Linked DNA regions of Homo sapiens: region 1 is linked to region 2. The links come from fine-mapping of genetic effects on gene expression. A gene starts in region 2. The other region holds a variant in brackets. All regions are shown on one strand. Distances are from middle to middle. Region 1 overlaps DHX34 (DExH-box helicase 34). Region 2 holds the start of DHX34 (DExH-box helicase 34).

Evidence for each region.
Region 1: its variant is fine-mapped to the expression of DHX34 in whole blood (INTERVAL, PIP 0.97).

What each region holds. Positions count from the first base shown.
Region 1 is chr19:47,370,035-47,385,676 of GRCh38, forward strand. It overlaps DHX34 (DExH-box helicase 34), which reads left to right. Exons shown (of 17, transcript NM_014681.6): 8 at 2,696-2,889; 9 at 3,565-3,666; 10 at 5,432-5,674; 11 at 5,890-6,063; 12 at 6,409-6,526; 13 at 7,066-7,172; 14 at 9,676-9,951; 15 at 10,782-10,958; 16 at 11,152-11,290; 17 at 11,946-12,670. The coding sequence ends at 12,079. Among named protein-coding and RNA genes, the nearest start is that of DHX34, 29 kb to the left of the region's middle. The variant T/C (reference allele first, on the strand shown) is at 8,217.
Region 2 is chr19:47,340,595-47,356,236 of GRCh38, forward strand. It overlaps DHX34 (DExH-box helicase 34), which reads left to right and starts at 8,721. Exons shown (of 17, transcript NM_014681.6): 1 at 8,721-8,758; 2 at 12,160-13,141; 3 at 14,445-14,756. The coding sequence starts at 12,437. C5AR2 (complement C5a receptor 2) reads left to right here. Exons shown (of 2, transcript NM_001271749.2): 2 at 191-6,735. The coding sequence starts at 206. The coding sequence ends at 1,219. RefSeq lists enhancers at 8,561-9,465, 14,468-14,967.

The sequences.
Region 1 (15,642 bases), 29 kb after region 2:
GACCCTGTCGTTCTTGTGTGCACCGTCAGTGTCTCAGGCACTCACCTGACGCTGCAGATGCCACCACCAGAGGCTGGGTGTGGCCTGTGGTGTCTGGCTTGCAAGGCTGTTTCAGAGAATGTGACGCAAAGTGCCCTGGTTGTGCGTGAGTGACAGGAAAGACAGGCTCTCTCGCTTGGATTCCCCAGCACTTGGGGTCATGACAGGGCCTCCCTTGGGAGGCACAGGCAGGTGGAGTACCCAAGATCCCCCAAACGCAGAAAGAAGTCTTGGCTTTTCCACAGCTCAGACCCCTCCCACCTCTCTCCTCTGCACAGCGTGTCCCCAGCTCTGCCCCGCACCCCTCTCTTGCGGGCTCAAGGATGTCAAAACTCTTCCTCTCCCTCATTCCTGAGTCATGCTCACCCCTCCCGGGGAGCTCACTGACTGAGGCTTGTTCATCTTGCCTGATTCTCCTGACTCAAGACTTTCTATTTCCAGCAGCCTGAGGCCCACCATGGCAGGACCACCCATGTATGTGTGTTAACACCATTAAAGCCCCCATCCTTGCAGCACAGCAGGGCTTCAGTGTGGGCAGGAGGCTGGATCCGCTGGACTTGGAGGGCTGCCCAGGCTAAGAAGATGGTTCATTTTTGTTTTATTTATTTATTTATTTATTTAGAGATGGAGTTTCACTCTGTCCTCCAGGCTGGAGTGCAGTGGCATGATCTTGGCTCACTGCAACCTCCACCTCCCGGGTTCAAGTGATCCTCCCACCTCAGCCTCCTGAGTAGCTGGGATTATAGGCATGTGCCACCACACTCAGTTTTTGTATTTTTTAGTAGAAACAGGGTTTCACCACATTGGCCAGGCTAGTCTTGAACTCCTGACCTCAAGTGATCCGCCAGCCTCGGCATCCCTAAGTGCTGGGATTACAGGCGTGAGCCCCTGCGCCCGGCTTCATTTTTGTTTTGGAAGGAAACAGGGCTAGAGCAGGGAGAATCTGAACTGAGAAGCAGAAGAATGTTCTGTGAGCTCTTGCTGTGTGCCGGCGAAAGGCTCTGTGGACTTTCCGTTATTTCATCCTTACCTGCTGAGGGCAGGGCCTCTGATCGCCCCCAGTGTGTAGATGGGGAAACTGAGGCTGGGCCCAGGAGGCTCCTGAGGGCATGGGGAAGCCTGGCTTTGATCGGAGGTGATGGTAAATGCCTCACTCACATTATCTCCCTGAGGGCTGGGGGCAGGTGCCCCCACTTGCCCTGTGGGGAAAACGAGGCTCAGAGAACTGCTGCTCAGGGTCACAGTGGGAACTGAGAGGCACGGATGACCCTGTGCTGGGCGTCCTCTGTGCCAGGTGGAGTTCTGAACGCTTCACAGGGTGAAACACAAAGCATCCTCTTGGCAGCCTGAGGAGAGGCCAATGCTGTTGTTCCCCCGTTTACAGATGGGGAAGCAGCGTCACGGCGAGGTGGGGCCACTTTTCCCTGGTGACAGAGCTGGGGTGTCCTGGAATAGGACAGGGGCCTGCACAGTACAGCCCCAAGCCCTGCTTTACTGCCACCTTTGTTTTATGAGGCCAGCTTTTTTTGTTTGTTTGGTTTTTGAGACGAAGTCTTGCTCTGTTCACTCAGGCTAGAGTGTAATGGCAAGATCTCAGCTCACTGCAGCCTCCGCCTCCAGGGTTCAAGTGATTCTTCTGCCTCAGCCTCCCAAGTAGCTGGGATTACAGGCGCCTGCCACCACACCCAGCTAATTTTTGTATTTTTAGTAGAGATGGAGTTTCACCAGGTTTGCCAGGCTGGTCTCGAACTCCTGACCTCAGGTGATCTGCTTGAGTCCAGTTTTGTGACAGGCACTATGGAAAGTCAGTGAAGGTCAACGGTGGGGGCGGGTCAGACACATGACACAGACCACTAGTTACTGGACAGGTGGGCAAGGGAGCCCCCAGAAGTCCAGCGTCAGCTCGGGCGCCCAGAACCAGGGGATGTCTAGATGCCCGCTGTGGAGCGCTCACAGATGGAGACAGGGTTCACCTGTCTCCAGGTGAGACTCGGCCACCCTGGGAGACGGTTCCTGCCACTTTTCCTCTCTGTGGCCTCCCCTCTGTCCTTCCTCCCCTTTCCCTACCTCTCCCAGCCCCTGCCCCATCTTTCTCCATGTCTTCGCCTTCTGTCCCCTCTTCCTCTTCCACTTCCACCTTGACCTAAACAAAGGCTGCAGGAGAAGATTCATCCTGTGATAAGCACAGGAGTCAGTGCCTGCCTGTGCCAGGGCAGAGCTAGAGGGACTCACTTACAGGTGACACTCTAGCGCGGAGGAGAGACGTCCACCGTGATGGGTCAAAATGAGCTCCTAGAGCAAAGACCAAGCCAGGGAAGCATCAGAGCGCTGGGGGAGTGGGTTGTAAATAGCAAAGTGGGGAACTTGGTGACAGGAGTAGTCAGCGCTTAGACAGTATCTCCTGTGTGTCCAAGGAGGCAGGGACTGGCCATCTCCAATCTACAAATGGGGAAACTGAGGCCCTTGCCCATGGCCACGTGACCAGAAAGCACAGCGCGTGGGTTTGAATCTCCATCTGGGTCACAAGACCCTTAGTGGGCAAGATGGAGGGGGTGGGAGCAGGAGGGCAGGCGGGAGGGCAGGCTGGGGCCCCGAGGGGTGAGGGCTGCGCCTGTCCTGGCACCCAGGAGCCTCAACCCCGTGTCCGCCGCTGCAGGGAAGATGCTGATCCTGGGCTCCATGTTCAGCCTGGTGGAGCCTGTGCTCACCATCGCAGCCGCACTTAGCGTCCAGTCGCCCTTCACCCGCAGCGCCCAGAGCAGCCCAGAGTGCGCGGCAGCACGGCGGCCGCTGGAGAGCGACCAGGGTGACCCCTTCACGCTCTTCAACGTCTTCAACGCCTGGGTGCAGGTGAGGCTGGTGGTGGGGGCCCTCTGTCTGTCACCCTGCTCAGGGCCAAGGCCTTCTGTGGCTGTGGCTCCTCCTCGTGTCCCACCCTCAGCCCCACCCTGGGAGGACCACTGAGCCCCCCACAGACTGGGCCTGCCTGGGGAGGGCCATGTCTCCATCATCCATGCTTTCGGCTCAGGACAGCATGTGCCCAGGCCCGGGGCTGAGAGGAGCCTGGGGTTTCTGAAGCACTGATGAAAACCTGTGCCACCTGGAGAAAGTCCAGGCTCCTTGGGAGGCATCTGGAGATCCAGTATATGTCCCTTGAGTCCTCACCCTAACCCTGGCCCTGTAGTGTAGTGCTGGGGGCCCATCAGTGCCAAAACTACCCTGGCCCTGCCCTCCCGGGGTTCACAGCCCAGTGCAGGGAGACAGACCACTGATGTGACAGTGACAACCCAGAGAGGGCTGGAATGGGGAGTCCAGGGGGCTGGGACAACCCAGCGGGGCATCTAACCCAGTTTGTGGGTAGTCTGGGAGGGCTTCCCATAGGAGGGGGCACTGGGGCTGAGACCTGGAAGCAGGAGAGCAGGTGTCCCTGAGGGATGCCCATTTTGGGGCTCTGGGTGCTCGGTCAGCCCCTCCCTCCCCGCACTGGCCAGGCCCTGACACCCTGGCGTCTGCTCCTCCACCCAGGTGAAATCTGAACGGAGCAGAAACTCTCGCAAGTGGTGCCGCCGCCGGGGCATAGAGGAGCATCGACTGTACGAAATGGCCAACCTTCGGCGCCAGTTCAAGGTGAGGCTCGGGAGGAGGGGTAAGGCCGGCCCCACTCAGGCAGACGTGTGTAAGCACACTCCAGAACACTGCTTCCCCTTCCCAGACAGTGGTCAGACCAGAATCCCACCCTGCACCCACCTCCCCCACCACCCGGTGACCAGGTGTTGGGGCAGCTGGGCAGAGCAAAGGGAGCAGAAATCCAGGAGGGCTTCCTGGAGGGGTGGACCGAGTCAGTGGACATGCAGCATCCTCGGGAAGAGCTCGCCCTCCGGACTGGGGATGCTGAGCTGGCTGCATGGGCATGGTGTTGGAGGCAGCCTACGGTTGTGGTTGGCCGGCACATCTGGAGCCAGACACCTCAGCCACAGATCCCAGCTCTGCCATTTCTGACAGCGTGGCCCCGGGTGTGTTACTGCTTGTCTCTGGGCCTCAGCTTCCCCTCGATAAAAAGAGAGGATAAAAATAGCACTTGCCAGCCGGGCGTGGTGGCTCACGCCTATAATCCTAGCACTTTGGGAGGGCGAGGTGGGTGGATCACGAGGTCAGGAGATCGTGACCATCCTGGACAACATGGTAAAACTCCGTCTCTTCTAAAAATACAAAAATTAGCCAGGCATGGTGGCACGTGCCTGTAATCCCAGCTACTTGGGAGGCTGAAGCAGGAGAGTCGTTTGAACCCAGGAGGTGGAGGTTGTGGTGAGCCGAGATTGAGCCATTGCACTCCAGCCTGGGCAACAAGAGCGAAACTCCACTCAAAAAAAAAAAAAAAAAAAGATTTGGGTTTCTCCTGCGCCCACACAGTTCTGCAGCTTGTTTCATAGATACTGTTCTCCATCTGAGTGCAGACAGACCTGCTGTTAGGTCCTTTTCCATGGTTGTATCCATGGATTGAGAATAGAATAAAAGGGTTCCTGGTGTAATCCATTCTGTTTGGTTGGAGATGGGCAAGCTGAGGCCCAGAGGGGGCAGTCACCCAGCCGACACCTCCGGTACCATTTCTGGGGTCCCGGTGTTGGGGACCACAGATGCCCCGATTGCTCTGAGCATGGGTCCCGAGTTCTCTCTGGCTGCTAGAGCAGTGTTCAGGCTTCATTGGTCCCCAGATGCTTTGAGAATCTAATGGAAAGTGTGAGCCCTTTGCACCCACATGCACACATACAGACACACATGCACGCACAATCTCCTGTGTCCTCCATCGGTCAGGGCTCAGCAGGAAACAGAAGGTCCAACCAAATTGGGTCACTTGAGGAATGTTGACAAGATGTGGGCACGGGGAGGGCAGGGGTCTCAGATTTTATGGGTCACAGGCAGCTGGAGGGTCTGTTGGGTCCAGATGGCCAACCCCGCCGAGCCCCCTCCTCTCTCCACTTGGTCGTTCTGGGATGAGGCCCAGGACTTGGCATTCCCAGCATGTGCCTAGATGCCCCAGGGCTACACTCAGAAGCACTAGTGCAGGACGCCCACCAGGGCTGTGTGGGAAAGCAGGGCCCCCCAGACCCAAGGGGCAGGTGGGGCAGTCAGCAGAGCCTGGAGCCAGCTGTGGGAAAAGGCACTGGACGCCCGCACCTGCCTCCTCTTGCCCCTGGCCCCGGTGTTCCCTCCACTGACCAGCGAGGACAGCTCTCTCTCTGGAGCAGCGATCCATGCCCAGCACCATGCGAGGGGCTGTTTTCAGCCCCCTTTGGGCACTAGCAGCCCTGCCACTGGGAGGGTCCCCATTTCCATGAGTCCAGAGCCCACTGAGTCTGCCCTGAGGCCCTCACCCCTACCCACCTGCCCCTAGGAGCTGTTGGAGGACCACGGGCTGCTGGCTGGGGCCCAGGCCGCGCAGGTAGGGGACAGCTACAGTCGGTTGCAGCAGCGCCGGGAGCGCCGGGCCCTGCACCAGCTGAAACGCCAGCACGAGGAGGGCGCGGGGCGCAGGCGCAAGGTGCTGCGGCTGCAGGAGGAGCAGGACGGCGGCTCCAGTGACGAGGACAGGGCTGGCCCAGCCCCCCCAGGGGCCAGTGATGGCGTGGACATCCAGGTGGGCGCCATGGGCTGTGGGGTGTGGGGGTTTACCAAGGTGGGCCTTGGCCTCTCCTGGGGGGGTCCCAGGGGACATGGCCCTGTCCTCATTTCAGGAGCCGGGTTTCCATGGACGGTGCTTGGTCCCAGGTATCTGCAGAGCCTGGGGGTCTGCGGATCATGGTAGGAGCCCCTCAGGTCCCCTAAGACTCTGCCTCCCCGTGCTCCCCCCAGGATGTGAAGTTCAAGCTTCGGCATGACCTGGCGCAGCTGCAGGCCGCTGCCAGCTCAGCCCAGGACCTGAGCCGCGAGCAGCTGGCTCTGCTGAAGCTGGTGCTGGGCCGGGGCCTGTACCCACAGCTGGCCGTCCCCGACGCCTTCAACAGCAGCCGAAAGGACTCAGACCAGGTGGGGCCTGTTCTGCCCCATCCTATGTTTTGTCCTCCAACACACGAACCCTGAGTGCCTGTCCTGTGCCGGGAATGCAGTGGTGACTGAAACAACCCTGGTTCTGTCCCCATGGGGCTCACAACCCAGTGGGAGGACAGACCCATCCCCAGACAACCCAGAGTGGGCAGGGCTTGGGGAGTCAAGAGCACTATAGGAGCCCACAGGGGGCATCTGCCCCAGATTTGGAGGAGTCAGGGAGGGCTTCCTGGAGGAGGGAACCTGGGCCAGAGGGTGGAGGAGAGGCATCCTGGGCAGAGGAGAGAGCAGATAGGAGGGCTTGTGCTTTCTCTCTGTCCTCCGCAGATTTTCCACACGCAGGCCAAGCAGGGCGCCGTGCTGCACCCCACCTGCGTCTTCGCTGGCAGCCCCGAGGTGCTGCACGCACAGGAGCTGGAGGCCAGCAACTGCGACGGAAGCCGAGGTACAGTGAGCCCAGGCGGAAGGAACCCCCATCCGGGATGTGAGGGGCAGGGATACCGTGAACTCCCAGGCCCCTCTGGCTGGGGCTCCCACACCGGCCCAGGCTGGTATTGACGGGGGCCCACAGGAGGGGAAGTTCCAGGGCCAGGCCTCCCTGGGTAGCCTTGGGTGACTCACCCCTGCTGGGCCTCACCTTCCGCATGGTGGTGATAGTCAACCTAAGCCAGTGTGGCTGTGCCCAGAGAGTGAGCACCGGTCAGGGGGCCTGTCCTATGGACTCTGTGAGCTCCCAGGTGGGTCCTGCAGAGGGAGGCCCCCCTGGCACCCGTGTGCATGGAAGGGTGTCTCGCTGCAGGCATGGCTGCGTGCTGGGAGTCACATTCAGATTTGGCTGACCTTCTTGTCTGAGCCAGGCCACCAAAGCCATGCCGTAAGCATACTCTTTCTATCGATGTGTACTTTGACCGGGTGGGACAGGCGGGCTTCTGATGGGCCTGGGTGGGCCAGGGTGGGCCTGAGCGGTCCTCCTCAACCTTTCAGACGACAAGGACAAGATGAGCAGCAAACACCAGCTCCTCAGCTTCGTGTCCCTGCTGGAGACCAACAAGCCGTACCTGGTGAACTGCGTCCGCATCCCTGCCCTCCAGGTGGGCCTCTGCCCCACCCCGCCCCCATGCCCAGATATGAGAGCTGCGTTGCCCAGGGTGGTGGGTGGGGGCACCGCGTGGGCTTGGAGGGGCCACCTGGCACCTGGGCTGGCCGCAGGCGTCAGCCTTGGGCCGTTGCTGTGGCTGCTTTTTCTCTCATTCATGGACTTGCTCAACAGTTAACCTGCCAAGTGCCTGCTGGGTGCCAGGCGCTGTGCCAGGTGCCAAGGGCGCAGCAGGGAACCAGGCATGAAGCCCAGCCCCTGCCCTCTCGGGCTCTAGTGGCAGGGGACAGTGACAGCAGTAGCACAGTGATGCCCTGAGCGACGTGTGGGAGGGTGGACACAGGGTGTGGTACAAGATAAGGCCACCTGGTGTCCCCAGGCAGAGACCCAAAGAGGAGAGCGTGTGGATCTCGGGGCAGAGTGTTCCAGGCAGTGGGGTGGCCTGCACAGAGGCTCCGAGGCAGACATGTGCCTGGCGTGCAGTCAGCAAGGGAGAGCGTGTGGAGATGAGGCCAGAGAGGCGAGGGAGACAGGACCCTGGGGACTTCTCAGAGCTGGGACAGGGTCCCAGCCAGGAGGGCTGGCAGCTGCCAGGAGGGAGAGGAGGGTGCTGCCCCGGTGGAGGCTGAGGCCGAACTCAGATCATGGATGCCCTTGCATGGGCACCGGCAGCAGAGCCATGGGCCCCATGGCAGCCACTGCCCTGCCCCTAGTGCTCCTCGAGCGTCTTTGTGATCCTAGGCCTGGCCTCGGAGTCCTCACGCAGCCCTGTGGGTCTCCCTTTATAGAGGGGACTGAAGCTCAGGCAGGGGCGGGGATACGTCACCTAAGTCACACACCGAGCAGGTGGCCAAGCCAGAGCTCCTGGGTCACACTGCCCCCTCCTGCCTCCTGGCTCACTACCAGCACTCCCCGGCTTGGGTCCCAGGGAACGTGGAGGGGAGAGAGGAACCTGCAGGCTCCTAGAGCCTCAGGGTTTTGTTGACACTGCGATTGCCACCAACACCACAAAAGCCAGCTCAGCTCAGTCACTTCTGTG[T/C]GTGTCCACACCTCCCTCGAGCCCGTCTGGTGGGCCAGGCACTGTTAGTGTTCAGTGTTCTGGGGCCGGGGGTGCAGCTGTGGTCAATGTCAACCAAACTCCCCACCCTCATGGGGCTCAGATAGGATGGTAGAGGCAGACGGCAAACCAAAAGGGTGATGCCAGGTGCTCATGTGAGCATGGGAAAGCAGGCAGCACGCAGGCCGAGGGACAGAGGATTGGCGACCAGCCGGGCCGCAGGAAGCGGAACAGACCTGCTACCTGAGGCGCTCTCTCCCTGCACTGGACTGCTTGTTGAGAGAATCTGGCCAGCTCACACCTGGAATCCCAGCACCTTGGGAGGCTGAGGTGGGAGGATTGTTTGAGCCCAGGAGTTCAAAGGCAGCCTGGGCAACATAGGGAGACTCTATCTATCTCTACAAAAAATTTTAAAAAGTTAGCTGGGCGTGGTGTTGTGTGCCTGTAATCCCAGCTACTCGGGAGGCTGAGGCAGGAGGATTGCTTGAGCCTGGGAGATTGAGGCTGCAGTGAGCTGTGATTGTTGACACTGCACTCCAGCCTGGGTGACAGAGTGAGACACTGTCTCAAAAAATAATAAGCCGGGCATGGTGGCTCACGCCTATAATCCCGGCACTTTGGGAGGCCGAGGTGTGTGGATCAGTTGAGGCCAGGAGTTTGGGACCAGCCTAGCCAATGTGGTGAAACCCCATCTCTACTAAAAATACAAAAATTAGCCGGGTGGGTGGCGCGTGCCTGTAATCCCAGCTACTAGGGAGGCTGAGGCAGGAAAATCGCTTGAACCTGGGAGGTGGAGGTTGCAGTGAGCCAAGATTGCGCCATTGCATTCCAGCCTGGGCAACAGAGTGAGACTCATCTCAAATAAATAAATAAATTAATAATAATAATAATAAGAAGAAGAAGATGGAGAAACTTCACATTCACATAAGCAGGCAGAACAGTATATGGAGCCCTCCTGTACCATCCCCGGTCCCCAAACCATCCACGCATGGCCAGTCCTGCCCTTTCCTCTGCCCTGGCCCCAGCCCTGAGGATTTTCCCCAACATCTTATGAGCCACAGCACTGGTAATTACAGCGCTGACTTCCGTCCTCACAGAGGAGCGTGTGCTCAGGGTCTGGGCTCTCCCTGCACGTCGTGTGTGTCTGAGTGCCTGCTGTCCCTCTGCCACCCTGCCTGAGAATGCAGCTGTCTCTCTCCCAGCACGCTCCCATCTGCCGCCCCGCCACCCCAGCCCCCTTCCCTGACTCAGCGGCTGCCTTGTTCATGCCGTATCCCCAGCACCCGAAGGGGTGCCTGGTACAGCGGGTAGATGGCGGGTAGGTGGATGCCTCACATAGACAGGGCTGGTGGGTGGGCAGGAGCCCAGCCGGGCAGGGCCTGTCTCCAATAGCGCCCTGCCCCTCCCACCTACTCCCTGTCTTCTGCCCCCTCTCTTTCAGTCCCTCCTGCTTTTTAGCCGGTCTTTGGACACCAATGGTGACTGCTCCCGCCTGGTGGCCGATGGCTGGCTGGAGCTGCAGCTAGCAGACAGTGAAAGTGCCATCCGACTCCTGGCGGCTTCCCTGCGGCTCCGTGCCCGCTGGGAAAGTGCCCTGGACCGGCAGCTGGCGCACCAGGCCCAGCAGCAGCTGGAGGAGGAGGAGGAGGATACGCCAGTCAGCCCCAAGGAGGTGGCCACCCTGAGCAAGGAACTCCTGCAATTCACGGCATCCAAGGTACCCTCCACCAGGGTGCCCGTGCCTCCCTATGGCCAGAAGGGGCATCCGTCACTGGGCTTGAGCCTCGGGAAGGCCTGGCTTCCCATTCACTCCACATGGGCACATTTGGGGGTTTTCAGGCCACAGAGGTTCAGTCACTTACACAAGGTCACTCCACTGGTCTGGGTGGAGCTAGGATTTGATCCCAGGAGCCTGGTTCCAGAGGCCACACTACCCACTGCTGCCTTGTTTACTAAGCACCTTCTGCAAGCGTGGCTGATCCCCTCTTGCTAACAGTAAAGGACAGGCAGGGTGTGAGAGGGAAGCCGTAGACGTCTGCTTGTGGATGGGAAGAACTGAACTGAGCAGACTTGAAACCAGCCCCTGACTCTTAGGTGGGGAGTGGAAATTGCTCGTGGTTCTACTTCATGTGGGTGGGGTGGGGAGAAGGGTACAATCCAGGCTGACTTCCTGGAGTAGAAGGGCTTGAGGACAAAGGAGCAGGAACCCAGTGAGCCATGGAGAGGGGACCAAGGCTGACATGCTAGGAGGAGGAGGGGGGAGGTGGCCAGACTTGAAGGTTAGACTCAAGGTCTGAATGGGGTCCCACCAGTGACAGGGGCAGAAGAGGGGCCTGGGGAGGGCAATTTAGATGGGGGTGGGTTATCAGGTATATTCTAGACAGACCCCTGGTCATGTGTGTCTGCAGCCAAATTGTGATTGGTGTAAGCACTTGGCTCCCGTAACTGCAAAGCCCGAGGGAGGGCTTCAGGCACAGCTGGATCCAGGTGCTTTGGCGGCATCTCCCTGAGTCTGTCTCTCTCCATTTCCTGTCTCTCCTTCCTTAGATTCCTTACAGCCTCCGGCGGCTCACAGGGCTAGAAGTCCAGAACATGTATGTGGGACCCCAGACCATCCCAGCCACCCCCCATCTTCCTGGCCTCTTTGGCAGCTCCACCCTGTCCCCCCACCCCACAAAGGGGGGCTACGCAGTCACTGACTTCCTCACCTACAACTGCCTCACGGTAAGCATGAACCCTCCTTCCCTGAAGGTGGGATTTCAGGAAGACCCCACCACCCCGTTTCACCTTAGTCCAGGGACATAGTTCCCAAGTGGGGCCCGTGGCCCTGAGGGCTTCTGGGAAGGGTCCCGGGGGGGCACTTGGGTGGTGGGTGGCACTTGGCGGGGGCCCAGCCCTGACAGCTGGCCTGCCACAGAATGACACAGACCTGTACAGCGACTGTCTCCGAACCTTCTGGACCTGCCCCCACTGTGGCCTGCATGCGCCCCTCACGCCCCTGGAGCGCATCGCCCATGAGAACACCTGCCCCCAGGCCCCACAGGATGGGCCCCCAGGTAAGCACAGGACTGTGGGGACCCGGCCACCTCTGCCCAGCCGTCTGCCCATCCCATGATGGTCTCCTGTGCGTGTGAGCACTTGCTAGAGCTTCGAGGACTGACGACCTCCACCCGCTGGCCCTGGCTGGTGCCACACACAGGCCTTGTCCTGAAGATCAGGAGCCCAAGGCAGGGAGAGCCTGGAGCGCCACCTCTTTCTGTCTGCCTGTCCCCTGTGGTGTCTCTGTGTTGCTGTCTTTGTCTCTGTTTCTGTCTCTCTGTGGCTATGTCTCTTGTTATTTTTCTCTGTCCTGCAGCTATCTCTGCCTTGGTCACCTCCACCCTGTTGTCACCCAGGGATGCCACACACTGGGGTTCAGTGGGGGAGATAGCACTGGGGCCACATGCCTCCATCCCCGGCTGGCTGTGTCTGCCTCTCAGTCTCCATGTCTCTCCTTGTGTCTTTCTCTCTGTCTCTCTCACTGGCAGGGATGCGGAGTAAAGACAGACCTGTGTATTTTTATTAATCTGGGAGGGCTTCCTGGAGGAGGCAAAACTGGGTTCTCCAAAGGCCAGGAGAGAACCTGAGCCCCACAGGTGCCTGGCATTTGGGTGCAGGTAGACCTGTGCACTGGAACACGCCCCTCACAGCCTCCTCCTTTTCCTCCCTTAGGGGCTGAGGAAGCTGCCCTCGAAACCCTCCAGAAGACATCTGTCCTGCAGAGGCCCTACCACTGCGAGGCCTGCGGGAAGGACTTCCTCTTTACACCCACAGAGGTGCTGCGCCACCGGAAGCAGCACGTGTGAGCTGGGCCAGGAGCCCTGCCCACCTCCGTGCAGCTGACCTGCCCTCCAGCCCAGGACTAGGGGCAGGACTCTTGCCTGAACCCCCAGCCTGGGCTTAGCCCTGTGGTCCTGTCCCAGTGCAGAGGGCCTGGAGCACGGATTGTGAATAAAGCCTCACATGCTGATACACACTGTTAGGCCTGCACCTGCCCATCCAGAAAGCAGCAGCTGCCTTGTTAGTCCTCCCCAGGGTCTAGCTTTCCTTCTTCCTGCTGCAGGGTGCTGCCTGAGGGGTCCTGGGTAGGAGGGGCGTTAGAGCCAGCAGGGACCTCCCATGTCTCCAGATTCCAGGTGCAGGTTCTTAGCACCTCCGCAGCCGCTCTCTCTTGAGTCCATCCTCAGTCTCTCCTACCCCTTGAAGTAGGGGGACCCTGAATTTGCCCATCCACCTGGGTCACTTTGAGAGTTGTGCAGGGGGGCTGGGAGCACTGGTGTTCACGTGGGACCACAGGCTGCACCATAAGACCCACTCACAATAAAAAAATAAAAGGCCGAGCCGGGCATGGTTGCTCACTCCCGTAATAAAAAAATAAAAGAACAGGCTGAGCCGGGCATGGTTGCTCACTCCCGTAATCCCAGCACTTTGGGAGGCTGAGGCGGGTGGATCGCCTGAGGTCAGGAGTTCGAGACCAGCCTGGCCAACATAGTGAAACCCTGTCTCTACTAGAAATACAAAAACTTAGCTGGGTGTGGTGGTGGGCATCTTTAATCCCAGCTACTGGGGAGGCTGAGGCAGGGGAATCACTTGAACCTGGGAGGCAGAGGTTGCAATGAGCTGAGATCATGCCATTGCACTCCAGCCTGGGCGACAAGAGTGAAACTCCATCTCAAAAAAAAAAAAAAAAAAATCAGGCTGAGGCAGGTGGTTTGCCTGAGCTCAGGAGTTTGAGACCAGCCTGGGCAACACGGTGAAACCCCATCTCTATTAAAATACAAAAAATTAGCTGGGCGTGGCAGCGTGTGCCTGTAATCCCAGCTATTCAGGAGGCTGAGACAGGAGAATTGCTAGAACCCAGGAGGCGGAGGTTGCTTGTGAGCCGAGATCGTGCCACTGCACTCCAGCCTGGGTGACAGAGCGAGACTCCATCTCTAAAAGAAAAAAAGAAAATGAAAAGAACAATAAAATCACTCAGGAGAAAAAGAAGGCACGGCATAGGAATGGAAGGAGGACAACCTGTAGGTCCTACAGATGCGAAAAGGAGAAGAGAATACGATAAACAACGTGCCACACAGAAATTCACTCATTTGAAATGGAAAAAATTATTGAAAGACACTAGCTACCCAAAGCTCATTCAGGAAGAAATAGATAACCGGAACAACTCTATTAAGGAAATGTAATTCATAGTTAACAAAGAGAACAGGCTCAGATGGGCTCCCTGGTGACGTCTACCAAACATGGAAATGATACTCGCCCACACCCACTTGGCCACAGCATAGGGGAGGACGCCTCCTGACTGATGTTATGAGGTCAGCATTATCCTGCTGCTAAAAGCAGGCTATGACAATGCAAGAAAAGAAAACTCTAAGCCTTATGAACATAGACAAAAACCCTAAATAGGAGTTCAGCACATCATATTTAGCAATATATAAATACAGTACATCATGGCCAACTGGGGCTTATTCTAGGAATGGAAGGTTGATTTAACATTTGAAAATCAATCTGATTCACCATATTAGAAACAGAAAAAAAAAAAAAGGTTGGGCATGGTGGTTCATGCCTGTAATTCCAGCACTTTGGGAGGCCGATAAGGGTGGATCAGTTGAGTCCAGGAGTTCCAGACTGGGATGGGGAACATAGCAAGACCCTGTCTCTATTAAAAAACACAAAAATTAGCCAGGTGTGGTGGTGCACGCCTATAGTCCCAGCTGCTCGGGAGGCTGAGGTGGGAAGATCACTTGGTGTCAGAAGGCAGACATTGCAGTGAGCTGAGATTGTGCCACTGCACTCCAGCCTGGGCAACAGAGCAAGACCCCATCTCAAAGAAAAAAAGTATATAAACCCCTAGTCTTAGTCAGGGAGATGGATTTGAGAGTCATTTCCCATCTCCTTGGCTGCACATCTCATTAAAGCCTTCTTCTTGGCAATACTCGCTTTAGTGATTGGCTTTCTGTGCGACCAGCAGCAGGACCTGGACTGAACCCCTGATTTTTGGTAACAGATTCCATTCAACAGTTTTTTTTTTTTTTTTTTTTTTTTTTTTTTTTTTTTTTTTTTTGAGGCAGGGTCTCGTTCTGTTGCCCGGGCTGGAGTGCAGTGGTGCAATCTCAGCTTACTGCAGCCTCCACCTCCTGGGCTCAAGTGATCCTCCCAAATCAGTCTCCCAAGTACCTGGGATTACAGGCATGTGCCACCATGCCCAGCTAATTTTTGGGTGTGAATAGGTTTTTTTGTTTGTTTTTTGTAGAGAGTTTCACCATGATGCCCAGGTTGGTCTGGAACCATGGGCTTCCTTTCTTTCCAAGGAAGAAGGCTTTAATCAGATGCGTGGCTGAGGAGATGGGAAATCAGTCTCAAATCCGTCTCCCTAACTAAAACTAGGGGTTTATATACTTTTTTTCTTTGAGATGGGGTCTTGCTCTGTTGCCCAGGCTGGAGTGCAGTGGCACAATCTCAGCTCACTGCAATGTCTGCCTTCTGACACCAAGTGATCTTCCCACCTCAGCCTCCCGAGTAGCTGGGACTATAAGCGTGCACCACCACACCTGGCTAAATTTTGTGTTTGGTGATCTGCCCACCTCAGCTTCCCAAAATGCTGAGATTACAGGTGTGAGCCACTGCACCCGGCTCATTCAACAGTATTTATTTAATTTATTTATTTTTGAGGCGGAGTTTCGCTCTTGTTGCTGAGGCTGGAGTGCAATGGCTCAATCTCGGCTCACTGCAACCTCCGCCTCCCGGGTTCAAGTGGTTCTCCTGCCTCAGCCTCCCAAGTACCTGGGATTACAGGCGAGTGTCACCACACCCAGCTAATTTTGTATTTTTAGTAGAGACGGGGGTTTCTCTATGTTGGTCAGGCTGGTCTCGAACTCCCGACCTCAGGTGATCTGCCCGCCTCAGCCTCCTAAAAATGTTGAGATTACAGGCATGAGCCACCACGCTCAGCCTCAACAGTCTTTTAAAATGTTCCTCTTGAAGGCTAACATGCACAAATTATAAGTAAACAGCTTGGTGAATTTTCCCAGATGAAACATACCTGTGCCAGCAGCACCCAGATAAAAAAATAAAACACCAGCAGCCCTCCACCCGCTGCAGCCCAGCTCCTCCGTCTCCCAGGAGTGTCCAATATTCTTTTTTTTTGAGATGGAGTTTTGCTCTTGTCGCCCAGGCTGGAGTGCAACGGTGCAATCTCGGCTCCCTGCAACCTCTGCTTCTGGGATTCAAGCAATTCTCCTGCCTCAGCCTTCCGAGTATGTGGGATTACAGGCACCCGCCACCATGCCCAGCTAATTTTGCATTTTTAGTAGAGACGGGTTTTCACCATGTTGGCCAAGTTGGTCTTGAACTACTGACCTCAGGTGATCCT
Region 2 (15,642 bases):
AAAGTGTTAAGATTACAGGTGTGAGCCACCACACCCGGCCTAGAATTCCAATATTCTAAAGCACTGGAGTCCTTATGACGCAATATTCCAGTTTGCAAGGTGCTGGTGGGCCGGGCTGATGGACACCCTAGATCTCCAGGGCCATGGAGTTTCCTCCTCTGAGTTTTCATCGTCTTTCTCTCCTGCCCAGACACCAGGAGCCTGAATGGGGAACGATTCTGTCAGCTACGAGTATGGGGATTACAGCGACCTCTCGGACCGCCCTGTGGACTGCCTGGATGGCGCCTGCCTGGCCATCGACCCGCTGCGCGTGGCCCCGCTCCCACTGTATGCCGCCATCTTCCTGGTGGGGGTGCCGGGCAATGCCATGGTGGCCTGGGTGGCTGGGAAGGTGGCCCGCCGGAGGGTGGGTGCCACCTGGTTGCTCCACCTGGCCGTGGCGGATTTGCTGTGCTGTTTGTCTCTGCCCATCCTGGCAGTGCCCATTGCCCGTGGAGGCCACTGGCCGTATGGTGCAGTGGGCTGTCGGGCGCTGCCCTCCATCATCCTGCTGACCATGTATGCCAGCGTCCTGCTCCTGGCAGCTCTCAGTGCCGACCTCTGCTTCCTGGCTCTCGGGCCTGCCTGGTGGTCTACGGTTCAGCGGGCGTGCGGGGTGCAGGTGGCCTGTGGGGCAGCCTGGACACTGGCCTTGCTGCTCACCGTGCCCTCCGCCATCTACCGCCGGCTGCACCAGGAGCACTTCCCAGCCCGGCTGCAGTGTGTGGTGGACTACGGCGGCTCCTCCAGCACCGAGAATGCGGTGACTGCCATCCGGTTTCTTTTTGGCTTCCTGGGGCCCCTGGTGGCCGTGGCCAGCTGCCACAGTGCCCTCCTGTGCTGGGCAGCCCGACGCTGCCGGCCGCTGGGCACAGCCATTGTGGTGGGGTTTTTTGTCTGCTGGGCACCCTACCACCTGCTGGGGCTGGTGCTCACTGTGGCGGCCCCGAACTCCGCACTCCTGGCCAGGGCCCTGCGGGCTGAACCCCTCATCGTGGGCCTTGCCCTCGCTCACAGCTGCCTCAATCCCATGCTCTTCCTGTATTTTGGGAGGGCTCAACTCCGCCGGTCACTGCCAGCTGCCTGTCACTGGGCCCTGAGGGAGTCCCAGGGCCAGGACGAAAGTGTGGACAGCAAGAAATCCACCAGCCATGACCTGGTCTCGGAGATGGAGGTGTAGGCTGGAGAGACATTGTGGGTGTGTATCTTCTTATCTCATTTCACAAGACTGGCTTCAGGCATAGCTGGATCCAGGAGCTCAATGATGTCTTCATTTTATTCCTTCCTTCATTCAACAGATATCCATCATGCACTTGCTATGTGCAAGGCCTTTTTAGGCACTAGAGATATAGCAGTGACCAAAACAGACACAAATCCTGCCCTCAGGGAGCTGATATTCTTCTAGTGGAGGAAGACAGACTATAAACAAAGATATATAGGGCCATTTGCGGTGGCTCACGCCTGTAATTCCAGGGCTTTGGGAGGCTGAGGCAGGTAGATCACTTGAGGTCAGGACTTCAAGACCAGCCTAGCCAATATGGTGAAACCCTGTCTCTACTAAAAATACAAAAATTAGCCGGGCATGGTGGCGCATGCCTGTAGTCCCAGCTACTTGGGAGGCTGAGGCAGAAGAATCGTTTTGAACCCGGGAGGCAGAGGTGACAGTGAGCCAAGATTGAGCCCCTGCACTCCAGCCTGGGCGACAGAGCGAGACTCCGTCTCAAAAAATAAATAAATAAAAGATTCTATTTATTTATTTATTTTTTTGAGATGGAGTCTCGCTCTGTCGCCCAGGCTGGAGTGCAGTGGCACAATCTCGGCTCACTGCAAGCTCCGCCTCCTGAGTTCACGCCATTCTCCTGCCTCAGCCTCCTGAGTAGCTGGGACTACAGGCGCCCGCCACCATGCCCAGCTAATTTTTGTATTTTTAGTAGAGAAGGGGTTTCACCTTGTTAGCCAGGATGGTCTTGATCTCCTGACCTGGTGATCCACCCGCCTCAGCCTCCCAAAGTGCTGGGATTACAGGCGTGAGCCACCGCACCCGGCCAAAAGATTTTAATAGGATCCCTCTGGTTGCTGGTGGAGGTGAGAGTATGGTGTAGGGGCAGTGAAGATCCCAGAGAGGAGGCTACTGTAATGGTCCAAGCAGGAGGTGATAGCGATTTGGATCAGGGTAACAGAGCTGAGGTGGTGAGAGGCTGACAGGTCATGCATCTATTTTGAAGGAAAGGCCAAGTCCAGGCTCCTTAGCTCGGCATTCAAGGCTTCTCTCCACCACTGGACACACTTACTCTCTAGCTTCTCAGACCCTGTAGCAATCAGAATCATGACCCCCGGTGATGTCCACATCTTAATCCCCTGAACCTGTGAAGAGGTGACCTTCCATGGCAAAAGGGACTTTGCAGGTGAGATTAAGTAAAGGATCTTGAGAAGGGGTGGTTATCCTGGATTGTCTGGGTGGGCTCAATGGAGTCACGAGGGTCCTTTTAAGAGGGAGGCAGGAGGGTCAGGGTCAGTCACAGGAGGTGACAACGGAAGCAGATGTCATAGTGACGTGAGGAGGTGCCAAGAAATGCAGGCAGCTTCCAGAAGCTGAAACAGACAAGGAAACAGATTCTCTCTGAAGCTCCCAGAAGGAACACAGACCTCCTGACACTTTTAGACCTCTGATCCGCAGACCTTTAAGAAAATACATTTGTATTGTTTTAAGTCACTATGTTTGGGGTGATTTGTTATAGCAGCCGTGGGAAGCTAATACACACCCTTCGGGCTATATTCACGCTTCTGCATCTTTCCTGAAGCTGTGCCACTGGCTGGAATGTCCTTCTGATCTATGTTGTGCAGTTCAACAATCAAGAGCCATCTGTGGCTATTCAAATTCGAATCAATTGGCCAGGCCTGGTGGCTCCTGCCTATAATCTCAGCACTTTGGGAGGCCGAGGTGGGAGGATTGCATGAGCCCAGGAGTTTGAGACCAGCCTGGGCGACATAGCAAGACCCCATCTCTACAAAAAATACAAAAATTAGCCAGACGTGGTGGGGCGTGCCTGTAGTTCCAGCTACTGAGGAGGGAGTTGCTTGAATCCTTCTGCTTCAATCCTCCTTAAAGCAGGTAGATTGCTTGAGCCCGGGAAGTGGAGTTTGCAGTGAGCTTAGATCACACCGCTGCACTCCAGCCTGGATGTCAGAATGAGACTCCATCTCAAAAAAAAAAAGAAAGAAAGAATAAATTTTCATTTCAAATTTAGTTCCTCGGGCACACTGGCCATAGTTCAAGTGCTCAGTAGCCACATATGGCTGGTGACTGCCATATTCGACAGCACAGCTATAGAACATTGCCATCATAACAGAGATTTCTGTTACAAAATGCTGTTCTAGAATTTACTTTTGAACTCTACCTGCTCAGATCTTTTAAATTACATGGTAGGCCAGGCATGGTGGCTCACGCCTGTGATCCCAGCACTTTCGGAGGCCCAGTCGGGAGGATCCCTTGAGCCCAGAAGCTGGAGACCTGCCTGGGCAACAGAGCAAGACCCCATCTCTACAAAAATAAAAAAAAGAAAATTAGCCTGGTTTGGTGGCACATGCCTGTAGTGCCAGCTACTAGGGAGACTGAAGTGGGAGGATTGCTTCAGCCTGGGAGGTTGAGGCTGCAGTGAGCCGTGATCTCATCACTGCACTCTAGCCTAGGTGACGGAGCGGGACCCTGCCGCTAAATAAATAAATAAATAAATAACATAGTAGTGATACCTGTGTCTGCGGTCATTACTCCAGAACAGCACTTCACATATAGTTTCTCCTTTAAGGTCATTCTCACAACAGCCCAGGGAGATAGGGTGGCATGCTTCATTTTATAAGCTGAGGTCCTGGGAGGGGAGGTCATTTACCCAAGATCACACAGCAAGAACACCAGACAGCTGGAATTTGATCCCAGTTTTGACTCCAATGCTCTTGCTCTTCATCATCAATAATTTCCTTCAAGGCGTCCCTCAAATGTCACTTCCTCCAGGAAGCCCTCCCTGATTTATGCTCCTTCCAGAAAGAATGGGCTCTTCCTTTCTCTGAGTCTCTGGAACACAAGGTCCCAGCTAAACTGTAAATTCCCCAAGGGTAACAACTGGACTAATTTTTTTTAATTTAATTTAATTTTATTTTTTTGAGATGAAGTCTTGCTCTGTCACCCAGGCTGGATTGTAGTGGCACGATCTCGGCTGACCGCAACCTCCACCTCCCGGGTTCAAGCGATTCTTATGCCTCAGCCTCCCGAGTAGCTGGGATTACAGGCGCTGCCACCACACTTGGCTAATTTTTGTATTTTTAGTAGAGACAGGGTTTCACCATGTTGGCCAGGCTGGTCTCGAACTCCTGACCTCAGGTGATCCACCCACCTTGGCCTCCCAAAGTGCTGGGAATACAGGCATGAGCCACCGTTCCCGGCCTTATCCTTGACTTAGAATACCTAACCTCCTGGGAATGCAGCCCATAGGTCTCAGCCTTATTTCACCCAGCTCCTGTTCAAGATGGAGTCACTCTGGTTCACATGCCTCTGACATTTCCCCGCTCCCTTTTATAAGAGAACCTTTAATCCTAAGGGTTGTAGAGGGAGGAAGATACAACTTCTGTGACTTCTTCAGGCTGGACAGGGGTGACGATATACCTGCCTAACTCTTAGGATCTATTGGATTCAGGGTAGACAGGAGCTCAGTCAGAAAGCACTGGTATCACTTTTTTTTTTTTTTTTTTTTTTTGAGACGGAGTTTCACTCTTGTTGCCCAGGCTGGAGTGCAATGGCACGATCTCAGCTCACCACAGCCTCCGCCTCCCAGGTTCAAGCGATTCTCCTGCCTCAGCCTCCCCAGTAGCTGGGACTACAGGCGTGTGCCACCAAACCCAGCTAATGTTTTTTTTTTTTTATTTTTAGTAGAGACGGGGTTTCTCCATGTTGGCCAGGCTGGTCTCGAACTCCCGACCTCAGGTGATCCACCCGCCTCGGCCTCCCAAAGTGCTGGGATTACAGACATGAGCCACCACGCCCGGCCTGATATTTTATTACTTAGTATTTTACTCTGAATTATCATGCGTGAATTAAGACCAAGGCTGTCTTGTAAAATAAAATTTGTTGTGGAACAATTTATACAGCTCCTTTGAGGTAGGAGGCAGGACTCAACTCTGGAGATGGGGCTCGGCTCGAATATTGGACCAAATTGAGGACCAGCTAAAACAGGGAGGAGGCTGAAGCAACTTATTATTTTTATTTATTTTTATTTTTTGGAGAAGGAGTCTTGCTCTGTTACCCAGGCTGGAGTGCAGTGACACGATCTCGGCTCACTGCAACCTCCACCTTCCGGATTCAAGTGATTCTCCTGCCGCAGCCTCCCGAGTAGCTGGGACTACAGGCGCATGCCACCATGCCCAGCTAATATTTTTGTATTTTTTAGTAGAGATGGGGTTTCGCCATATTAGCCAGGCTGGTCTTGAACTCCTGACTCAGGTGATCTGCCCACCTCGGCCTCCCAAAGTGCTGGGATTACAGGTGTGGGCCACCACGCCTGGCCCGAAGCAACTTTCTATGACACGCCTACCAGTGTGCCATGTCAGTTTGCCATTGCCATGGCAACACACCCAGGAGTTACTGCCCCTTCCCATGGCAATGACCCCATGACCCAGAAGTTACTGCCCCTTCCCTAGATATTTCTGCATAAACTGCCCCTTAATCTACATGTAATTAAAAATAGGTATAGGCTATTTTTATACCTATATAAATAGGTATAGGCTAAAAATAGGTATAGGCTGGGCGTGGTGGCTCATGTCTGTAATCCCAGTACTTTGGGAGGCCAATGCAGGTGGATCACCTGAGGTCAGGAGATCAAGACCATCCTGGCTAACATAGTGAAACCCTGTCTCTACTAAAAATACAAAAAATTAGCCAGGCGTGTTGGCGGGAGCCTGTAGACTCAGCTACTCGGGAGGTTGAGGCAGGAGAATGGCGTGAACCCAGGAGGCGGAGCTTGCAGTGAGCCGAGATCACACCACTGCACTCCAGCCTGGGTGACAGAGCAAGACTCCGTCTAAAAAAAAAAAATAGTAAGAAAGAAGGAAAGACACAAAGACAGAAAGAAGGAAGGAAAGAAAGCAAGCTGTTTTCCCCTGCCTTGCCCCTGCTCACCTTTGAATTCTTTTCTGGGCAAAGCCAAGAACCCTCGTGGGCTAAAACCCCGCTTTGGGGCTTAAAGTTTGCAAAATCCTCCCATTAATCTATTGGGACCAGTTGCCACTTAGGAGCATTCTTTGATAACTTTTACAAAACATCTTTTGTGGTTTTTGAAATGTTTTCATTTTGTAGATCATTAGCCCTTCTTTTTTGAACTGGAATACATTTCACGGGAATTTTCAAATTTAAGTCTGTGCAATGTTACATAAAATACCTTTGATTATTAAAAGCCATCTGTTTTGCTATAACTTCCCTTTTTTGTTCTAAAGTTTGTCTATTTCTGCTATTTGTTTTTTTACCATAGAAATATTGATTTCCTTAAGTTTTCAAAGAACCAAGTTATTAATAATTTCTCTAAGAACTAGTCTCAAGCTTGCTATACAATCCTATGGTTGATAGACTGTGGCTTTCTTGTTGATTTCCATTTGTTGTTCATTTCCTCCAATTTTCCTTTTTTAAAAATTATAATTATTGTTTGGATTATTTATTTATTTATTTATTTGTTTGTTTGTTTATTTGAGACAGAGTTTCTCCTTGTCGCCCAGGCTAGAGTGCAATGATGCGATGTTGGCTCACTGCAACCTCCACCTCCTGGGTTCAAGCGATTCTCTTGCCTCAGCCTCCCGAGAAGCTGGGATTACAGGTGTCCGTCATCATGCCTGGCTAATTTTTTATATTTTTAGTAGAGACGGGATTTCATCATGTTGGCTTAGCTGGTCTCGAACTCCTGACCTCAGGTAATCCACCTGCCTCGGCCTCCCAAAGTGCTGGGATTACAGGCGTGAGCCACCGCACCTGGCCTTGTTTGGAAATTTTAAGCAGAATGCTTAGTCCATTTATTCTTCTTCTTTTGATAATAATGTATGAATTGGCTTCTCTATCTCTAAGTTGTTTTCCAGAGGCTTGATAATTATATCCAACGTTCCACTTGACATCCCCAGTTGATGTCCAATGCATAACTCAAACAATATGCTGAAAACAGATCTTCGGATTTTCTCTCTAGCCTCTCTCCCACGTCTTCCTGATGGTAGTAGATGGTGACTCCATATTTCCAAATGCTCAGGCCAAAAACTTTAGAGTCCTTCTTTTTTTTAGACATAGAACTTTTTTCTGGCCAGGCACGGTGGCTCATGCCTGTAATCCCAGCACTTTGGGAGGCCGAGGTGGGCGGATCACGAGGTCAGGAGATCGAGACCATCCTGGCTAACACAGTGAAACCCCGTCTCTACTAAAAATACAAAAAATTAGCCGGGCGTGGTGGCGGGCGCCTGTAGTCCCAGCTATGCGGGAGGCTCAGGCAGGAGAATGGCGGGAACCTGGGAGGCGGAGCCTGCAGTGGGCCGAGATCGCGCCACCGCACTCCAACCTGGGCGACAGCGAGACTCCGTCTCAGAAAAAAAAAACAACAACACTTTTTTCTTTTTTTGAGACAGTCTGGCTCTGTCACCCAGGCTGGAGTGCGGTGGTACCATCATGGCTCACTGCAGCCTCAGTCTCTCAGCCTCCTAGGTTCAATCGATCCTCCCACCTCAGCCTCTTGAGTAGCTGGGACTACAGGCACACACTACCATATCCGACTAACTTTTGTATTTTTTTGTAGAAACAGGGGTTGGCCATATTGCCCAGGCTGGTGTGGAACGCCTGACCTCAGGTGATCCACCTACCCCGGCCTCTCAAACTGTTGGGATTACAGGCGTGAGCCGCCGTGCCCAGCTGTTTCTTCTTTCAGTTAATAAAAGAGAGGGTGCATTGCTGGCTAATGAGATTGTTTCTATACTTGGGGGTCTTCCTGAATGTGTGTGATTGAGTTTATTGCAGAGAAAGGTAACAGAAAATGGGGTTGTAGAAAGAAAAGAGGTAGAGGCTGAGTGAGATGCCCCACATCTGTAATCTCAGTGCTTTGGGAGGCCAAGGCGGGCGGATCACTTGAGATCAGGAGCTGGAGACCAGCCTGGCCCAAATCGTGAAACCTCGTCTCTACTAAAAATACAAAAATCAGCCAGGTGTAGTGGTGTGCGCCTGTAATCCCAGCTACTCGAGAGGCTGAGGCAGGAGAATGGTTTGAACTTGGGAGGCGGAGATTGCAATGAGGTGAGATAACGCCACTGCACTCTAGCCTGGGAGACAGTGAGACTATGTCTCAAAAGAAAAAAAAAAGTTCCTGGGCCCCAGACCAGCTCTCTCTTTGGGTTAAAACCCCGGCGTCCCGGAGCTGAGGCGCACGTGGCTATGCTTGGGGAGGAGAGGGCGGGGCCGGGGAGGAGGCGCTTGCAAGTCTGTACCGCAATGCCTCTACTGGCCTCTAGAGGGCGCAATCACTCGAGGCTCCGCCCCAAGCGAGGCGGGGCGGAAGCGTGCTGTGCACAGGCGCAAGATGGGTCTTGGGCAGCCCAGAGCTTCCGATTGGCTCTTCTGTGGTGGCGGGGCGGGGTCAGAACGAGATGGCTGTGTGCGCAGGCGCAAGACTAGCGCTCTTGGGACCGGAAGTTAAGGCGTTCGCGGCGTGTGGTAAGTGAGGGGGGCGGGACGGGTGTACCGGGTTGTGGCGGCGATGGCTGTCGGAGTTGGGCCGCTTGGGGGTAGTTTGGGGTGCGAGTCCAGGGGCGAGGGAAGTCTCGAGATGAGGAGAAATGTAGGAGGCAGCCGAAGGGCCGGCAAACGCGGACAGAGATGGCACCTGAGCGTCCCTGGGAGAACCTGGGCGACAGGCCAGAGACCGAAAGAAATGGAGGCACGAAAAGAAGCTTCGAGAAACTGAGGGACTGAAAGACGAGGGTGTTGGGAGAGGAGGGAAGCTGAAAACTAGAGAGCGTGGGCGAGAGTGCCGATGGGTTCCAGCGAGAGTCTTAGAGCCCACGAGGCCGAGAGGCGTGGTCGCCCATGAACTTGGGGAGTGGAGGGAAAAGTCGGAAACTGATCGTGGACACTAGAAACAGAAAAAATGGAATTTAGATGGAGAAACGAGACACTGAATCACGGGGGAGACCGAGAGATACGGAAGGATGGAGACAGTTGAAATAGGAAGAACCCCACAAAAGCTGGAGATAATGGAGAACGATGCTGAGAAATGGAAAAGCGAGGGAGTGGAGCCCGAACCCCTGGATTTGAGTGGCTCATGTAACACTCGGCTACTCACTTAGCCTCTCTATTGCTCAGTAAAATAGGGGGTGATCATAGTGCCTGACAGTCGTGAGAAAAGTGTGTGTGTGTATGTACATAGGTGTGGGATAGGAATAGATCATGCAGATAGGATAGGTCTGTGTGTTAATGTGAGTAAGTAAGCATGAGCTATTACTAAAGCTTCTGATATTGGGAGATAAAGTATTAGATGGGGAAATGGAGAGAGGTGGTGATGGAGAGTGAATACTGGAAGGACAAAAGGGAGGAAAAAAAGATTCAAACAGAAAATGAGAAAGGGCGTGGTGACTCACTCCTGTCATCCACAGCACTTTGGGAGGCTGCGGTGGGAGGATCACTTGAGCTTGGGAGGTCGAGGCTGCTGTACGCCGTGATTGTGCCACTGCACTTCAGGCTGGGTGACAGAGTGAGACCCTGTTTCAAAAAAACAAAAATGAATTTTTTTTTTTTTTTTTTGAGATGGAGTTTCGCTCTTGTTGCCCAGGCTGGAGTGCAGTGGTGCGATCTTGGCTCACTGCAACCTCTGCCTCCTGGGTTCAAGCGAGTCTCCTGCCTCAGCCTCCAGAGTAGCTGGGATTACAGGCAGGTGCCACCACCCTGGCTAATTTTGTATTTTTAGTAGAGACGGGATTTTTCCATGTTCGTCAGGCTGGTCTCGCACTCCCGACCTCAGGTGATCTGCCTGCCTCAGCCTCCCAAAGTGCTGGGATTATAGGCGTGAGCCACCATGCCCGGCCTGAAAAAGCATTTTTTTTTTAATGAGAAAGATGGAGAAAGTCAAATGGAGAACTGAAGAGAGATGGAGAAAGGAAGAGTTGGATTACAGAGAAAAATCAGACTACAGAATGACTCATAAGTGAAGAGAGATGCGAGCTGACTAGGACAGGGAAGAGAGATGAGGGTGATGATGAACAAGACGGACTGAAAAAGAGACAGAGGCCTGAAGATGGAGTGGAGAGAGATGGAGGGGACAGAGGGGGAAACAAACCCACTGAAGGCCATGAGCCCAGGGCAAATAGGCCAAGAGACCAAAAGATGGTCAGAGACACAGTTATACAGAAACTAGAAGATGCAGACAATCTAGAAGCCAAAAAAGATAGATACCTTGAGAGGAGCGGGATGCTGTCAGTGGGGCCCAGCATGCATAAGCAGTTTCTAGCCTCAGAAGAATGCTCTCATTTTCTTTTTCTTTTTTTTTTTTTTTTTTTTTTTTTGAGACAGAGTCTCGCTCTGTTGCCCAGGCTGGAGTGCAGTGGCTCAGTCTTGGCTTCCTGCAAGCTCTGCCTCCAGGGTTCGAGTGATTCTCCTGCCTCAGCCTCCCGAGTCGCTGGGACTACCCGAGTAGCCAGGTGCCCGCCACCACACCTGGCTAATTTTTTTTCTCCAGCCTGGGTGACAGAGCAAGACTCCATCTCAAAACAAAAAAGACTCCAACTGTAAGCAAAAAGGCATTTTCTGGTGTAGCTGAGAAGTGGGGGGTTGAAGGGAACTAAGCTTCAAGACCTAAATGATGTTGCCAAGCTTCTCTTCCTCTCCCTCTTTCACCTCTCCCTGTGGTGCAGTGACCATTCTTGTGCCTGTATCTAGTTATTTCTCTAGGATAGATTTTAGGAAAGACTCTGTCATGTTCCAGAGCTACCACAAAGAGCTCCAGGCTTATATCAAACTTGCCTGATTATGATGGATAAAATGAGAGCTTTTCTGTCCTAGCAACCGAGTGTAAATTCCACAAAAGGGCCCTGATTGGCCCTTCTTGGATCATGTGTCCGCTTCTCAGGCCAATCCTTGGTTAGAGGGGGAGTAGACTACTAAGACTGGCCAGGTCTTTGTTACTTGCCTACCCAATAGGGGTTCTTTGTCTTAAAGGCCCTCAGAACCATGTAGAATCGAGGAAGGGCTGTTGTCCAAAGGAAGGTGGATACTGTCCTCAGAAAAGAAGTAAAGGGTTGTGCCAGGCAGGCAAAAATTACATATAACACTTGCAAAATTTTGCCTTTTATCTCAATGTTCTGAATCTCACTGGACCCCGGGTGAAGAACCCTTGCCTTATTCTTTTCATTATATCACACCTCTCTCCTATTACTGCCTGTGGAGACAAGGTTCTGCTGTTGGTTGGCCATGTGACCTACATCTCTCCTTTAGGTCTCAGGTGAAACATCCCCTCCTCCCAGGATCCTTCCCTGATTCCCAAGCATGGGAAGGAGGAGGAACCTCCTTTGGTGTCCCACAGCTCCCTAGGATTCTGTTATCACAGTCCCCATCACTGGATTGTCACAGTCTGATGACGTGTGTGTCACATGAGAGATCATGTGATCATGGCCGTCTGTGAGGACTCTGGTAGTCATATTCATTACCTCCTTTTTCTAGTTCAGTGCTTAAGAAACAGGCTGTTAGAAATGTTTCTAAAAATGGGCTGGGCATGGTGGCTCACACTGGTAATCCCAACACTTTGGGAGGCTAAGGTGGGGGAATTGCTTGAGCCCAGAAGTTTGATATCAACCTGGGCAACATAGTGAGATCTCATCTCTACAAACAGTAAAAAATTAGCTGGGTGTGGTGGCATGTGCCTGTAGTCCCAGCTGCTCGGGAGGCTGAGGCGGGAGGATCGCTTGAGTCCAGGAGGTCGAGGCTGTGGTGAGCCATGATTACGGCACTGCACTCCAGCCTGGGAAACAGAGTGAGACCCTGCCTCAAAAAGAAAAAAACAAAACAAAACCAAAAAAAGCAATGTTCCCAAAAGAGAATTAATGTCTTCTGTTCTCTCTCTTAAGAATCCAGGGCCTGAAAACCCAGAATGAACTTGTGTCCATCCCAGAGATCACTGCAGATGTCATGAGGTACCCTTTGTGTCACCAGCTCAAGCAGGCCTCTGGCCACTTTATCATCTGTGGTGGTCCTGTGCCGTGACCAGGAGGAAAAATTAGCTCTTTGAAGAGAAAGTAGTTCTCTATTGCAGGCACTGGCCTCTTAAATTGTTGCAGGTGGGGAATGGATGAGAATATTTGTTTTGGGTGATCAGAACTGAGACTCCTATTGTGGATTAGTAACATGCCTCCTCCTAGAACAAGGGAGGGCAGGGATCGCCGAGACCACCACCGGGCTCCCAGCGAGGAAGAGGCCTTGGAGAAATGGGACTGGAATTGTCCAGAGACGCGTCGCCTCTTGGAAGATGCCTTCTTCCGTGAAGAGGATTACATCCGTCAGGGTTCTGAGGAATGTCAGAAGTTTTGGACCTTCTTTGAACGCCTGCAGAGATTCCAGAATCTCAAGACCTCCAGGAAGGAGGAGAAAGACCCTGGACAGCCCAAGCACAGCATCCCAGCGCTGGCCGACCTACCTCGCACTTACGACCCACGTTACCGCATCAACCTCTCTGTTCTTGGCCCTGCCACGCGGGGCTCTCAGGGACTGGGCAGGCACTTGCCCGCGGAGAGAGTGGCTGAGTTCCGCCGAGCCCTGTTGCACTACCTGGACTTTGGCCAGAAGCAGGCATTTGGGCGTCTGGCCAAGCTGCAGCGTGAGCGGGCAGCCCTCCCCATCGCCCAGTATGGGAACCGCATCCTGCAGACGCTGAAGGAGCACCAGGTGGTGGTAGTGGCCGGTGACACCGGCTGTGGCAAGTCCACTCAGGTGCCCCAGTACCTGCTGGCTGCTGGCTTCAGTCATGTGGCGTGCACCCAGCCCCGGCGGATCGCCTGCATCTCACTGGCCAAGCGTGTGGGCTTTGAGAGCCTCAGTCAGTATGGCTCACAGGTGAGTGGGACGCACCAGGTTTCCGATTTTTCCAGCGTGACCTTGGGGGAATAGGTTGCTTGTCCATATGGCAGTATCAATAAAAATGAAGCACTTACCCTTGGACCCAGCGATGATTCTTCTAGAACTTTATCCACAGAGTGGCTTGTCTGTGGTCTACATGACAAAGGAGCTAGCATTAACCAGTGTAGCACTTTAACAGCAAAACAATGGGAAATGTCCTAAAGGCTCATCACTTTTTTTTTGAGACGGAGTCTCACTCTGTGGCCCAGGCTGGAGTGCATTGGTGCGATCTTGGCTGACTGCAACCTCTGCCTCCCGGGTTCAAGCAATTCTCCTGCCTCAGCCTCCTGAGTAGCTGGGATTACAGGCACCCGCCACCATGCCCAGCTAATTTTTGTAATTTTAGTAGAGACGGGGTTTCACCATGTTGGTCAGGCTGGGCTCAAACTCCTGACCTCAGGTGATCCACCCACTTCGGCCTCCCAAAGTTTTGGGATTACAGGTGTGAGCCACCACGTTGGGCTGCGAGGGTAATTCTTGACGATCACTGCAATGCAAACTGCCATCTTGGAAGGCCAATAATAGTCCTTCTGTCTCATGGTGGTCATGAGGATGAAATGGGTTGATATACATAAAGCACTTAGAGTGGCATATAATGTCCTGGCACATAGCAGGGACTCAAGAAAAGGTTATTGCTATATAGTTAATATTATATATACATGAGGCACAGTGCTAGATACTTTCTGTGCATTGTCACATGGAATTCTCACAGCATCTAGGAGGAGAACTATAAGGGATGGCATTGCCTGCCCAAGGTCAGTTGGCACTAAGTGGCAGAGGTGAGATTCAAACCCAAGCTGTTGGACTCCAGAGTCTGATGGGTAGGCATGGTATTTGCTTAGATTTTCTTTTTGCTTTTTCTTTTTTTTGAGATGGAGTTTCACTCTTGTTGCCCAGGCTGGAGTGCAATGGTGCGATCTTGGCTCACTGCAACCTCCGCCTCCCGGGTTTAGGTGATTCTCCTGCCTCAGCCTCCCAAGTAGCTGGGATTACAGGCATGCGCCACCACGCCCGGCTAATTTTGTTTGTATTTTTAGTAGAGATGGGGTTTCTCTATGTTAGTCAGGCGGATCTCGAACTCCCTACCTCAGGTGATCCGCCCGCCTCTGCCTCCCAAAGTGCTGGGATTACAGGCGTGAGCCACCGCACCCGGCCTGCTTAGATTTTCAATTTGGGCAGGGCCAGGGGCTGGTACCCAGGCTCAGGGTCCTCTCCTGATCCTTTCTTTCTCCCACCCCAGGTCGGCTACCAGATCCGCTTTGAGAGCACACGTTCGGCGGCCACCAAGATTGTATTCCTGACAGTGGGGCTGCTCCTGCGACAAATCCAGCGGGAACCCAGCCTGCCCCAGTATGAGGTCCTGATTGTGGATGAAGTCCATGAGCGGCATCTCCACAACGATTTCCTCCTGGGCGTCCTCCAGCGCCTGTTGCCCACGCGGCCTGACCTCAAGGTCATCCTCATGTCGGCCACCATCAACATCTCGCTCTTCTCCAGCTATTTCAGCAATGCCCCTGTGGTACAGGTGCCTGGGAGGCTGTTCCCCATCACGGTGAGTACTTCCCCCTCCTCCCACATCCCCAGACCTCCAACCTGGTCTCTGTCCAAACCTGGACATGCCTCTTCTCTCTGCTGCTGTATCTCCCATCTCTTTCATTTAAAGATGTTCTCTTTTTTTAAAGCTACCATTTTCTGAGCATTCATAATCAGCTGGTTAGAGTGCTAAGTGCTTGTTAGAGTAAAAGCTGTTACAAGAAGACCCAAAAATGGCTGGGCGCCGTGGCTCATGCCTGTAATCCCAGCACTTTGGGAGGCCGAGGTGGGTGGATCACGAGGTCAGGAGATTGAGACCATCCTGGCTAACATGGTGAAACCCCATCTCTACTAAAAACACAAAAACAAAATTACCCAGGCATGGTGGTGGGTGCCTGTAGTCCCAGCTACTCGGGAGGCTGAGGCAGGAGAGTGGCGTGAACCTGGGAGGCGGAGCTTGCAGTGAGCCGAGATCGCGCCACTGCACTCCAGCCTAGGTGACAGAGTGAGACTTTGTCTCAAAAAAAAAAAAGACCCAAAAATGTAAAGTCTCAAATAAGAGAAGTTTATTTCTCTCATATAACAGTGTGGCTGGTCCAGGCTGTTGGGCAACTCTGTTCCATGTGGTCATTCAGGGATCCGGGCTCCTCCTTTGTCATTACTCTGCCATCTCACTGGGCAGGATTTCTCAAAGTCAGCAAGATTGACATTTCAGTCTGGATAATTCCTTGTCGTGGGGGCTGTCCTGTGCATTGTAGGATATCTAGCAGCATCCCTGGCCCTACCCACTAGATGCTAGTAGTCTTCTCCTCTGGTTGTGACTATTAAAAATGTCTCCAGACATTGCCATATGTTCCCTCTGGGGCAAAACCACCCCTAATTGAGAAACACTGTCCTAGTGAGTT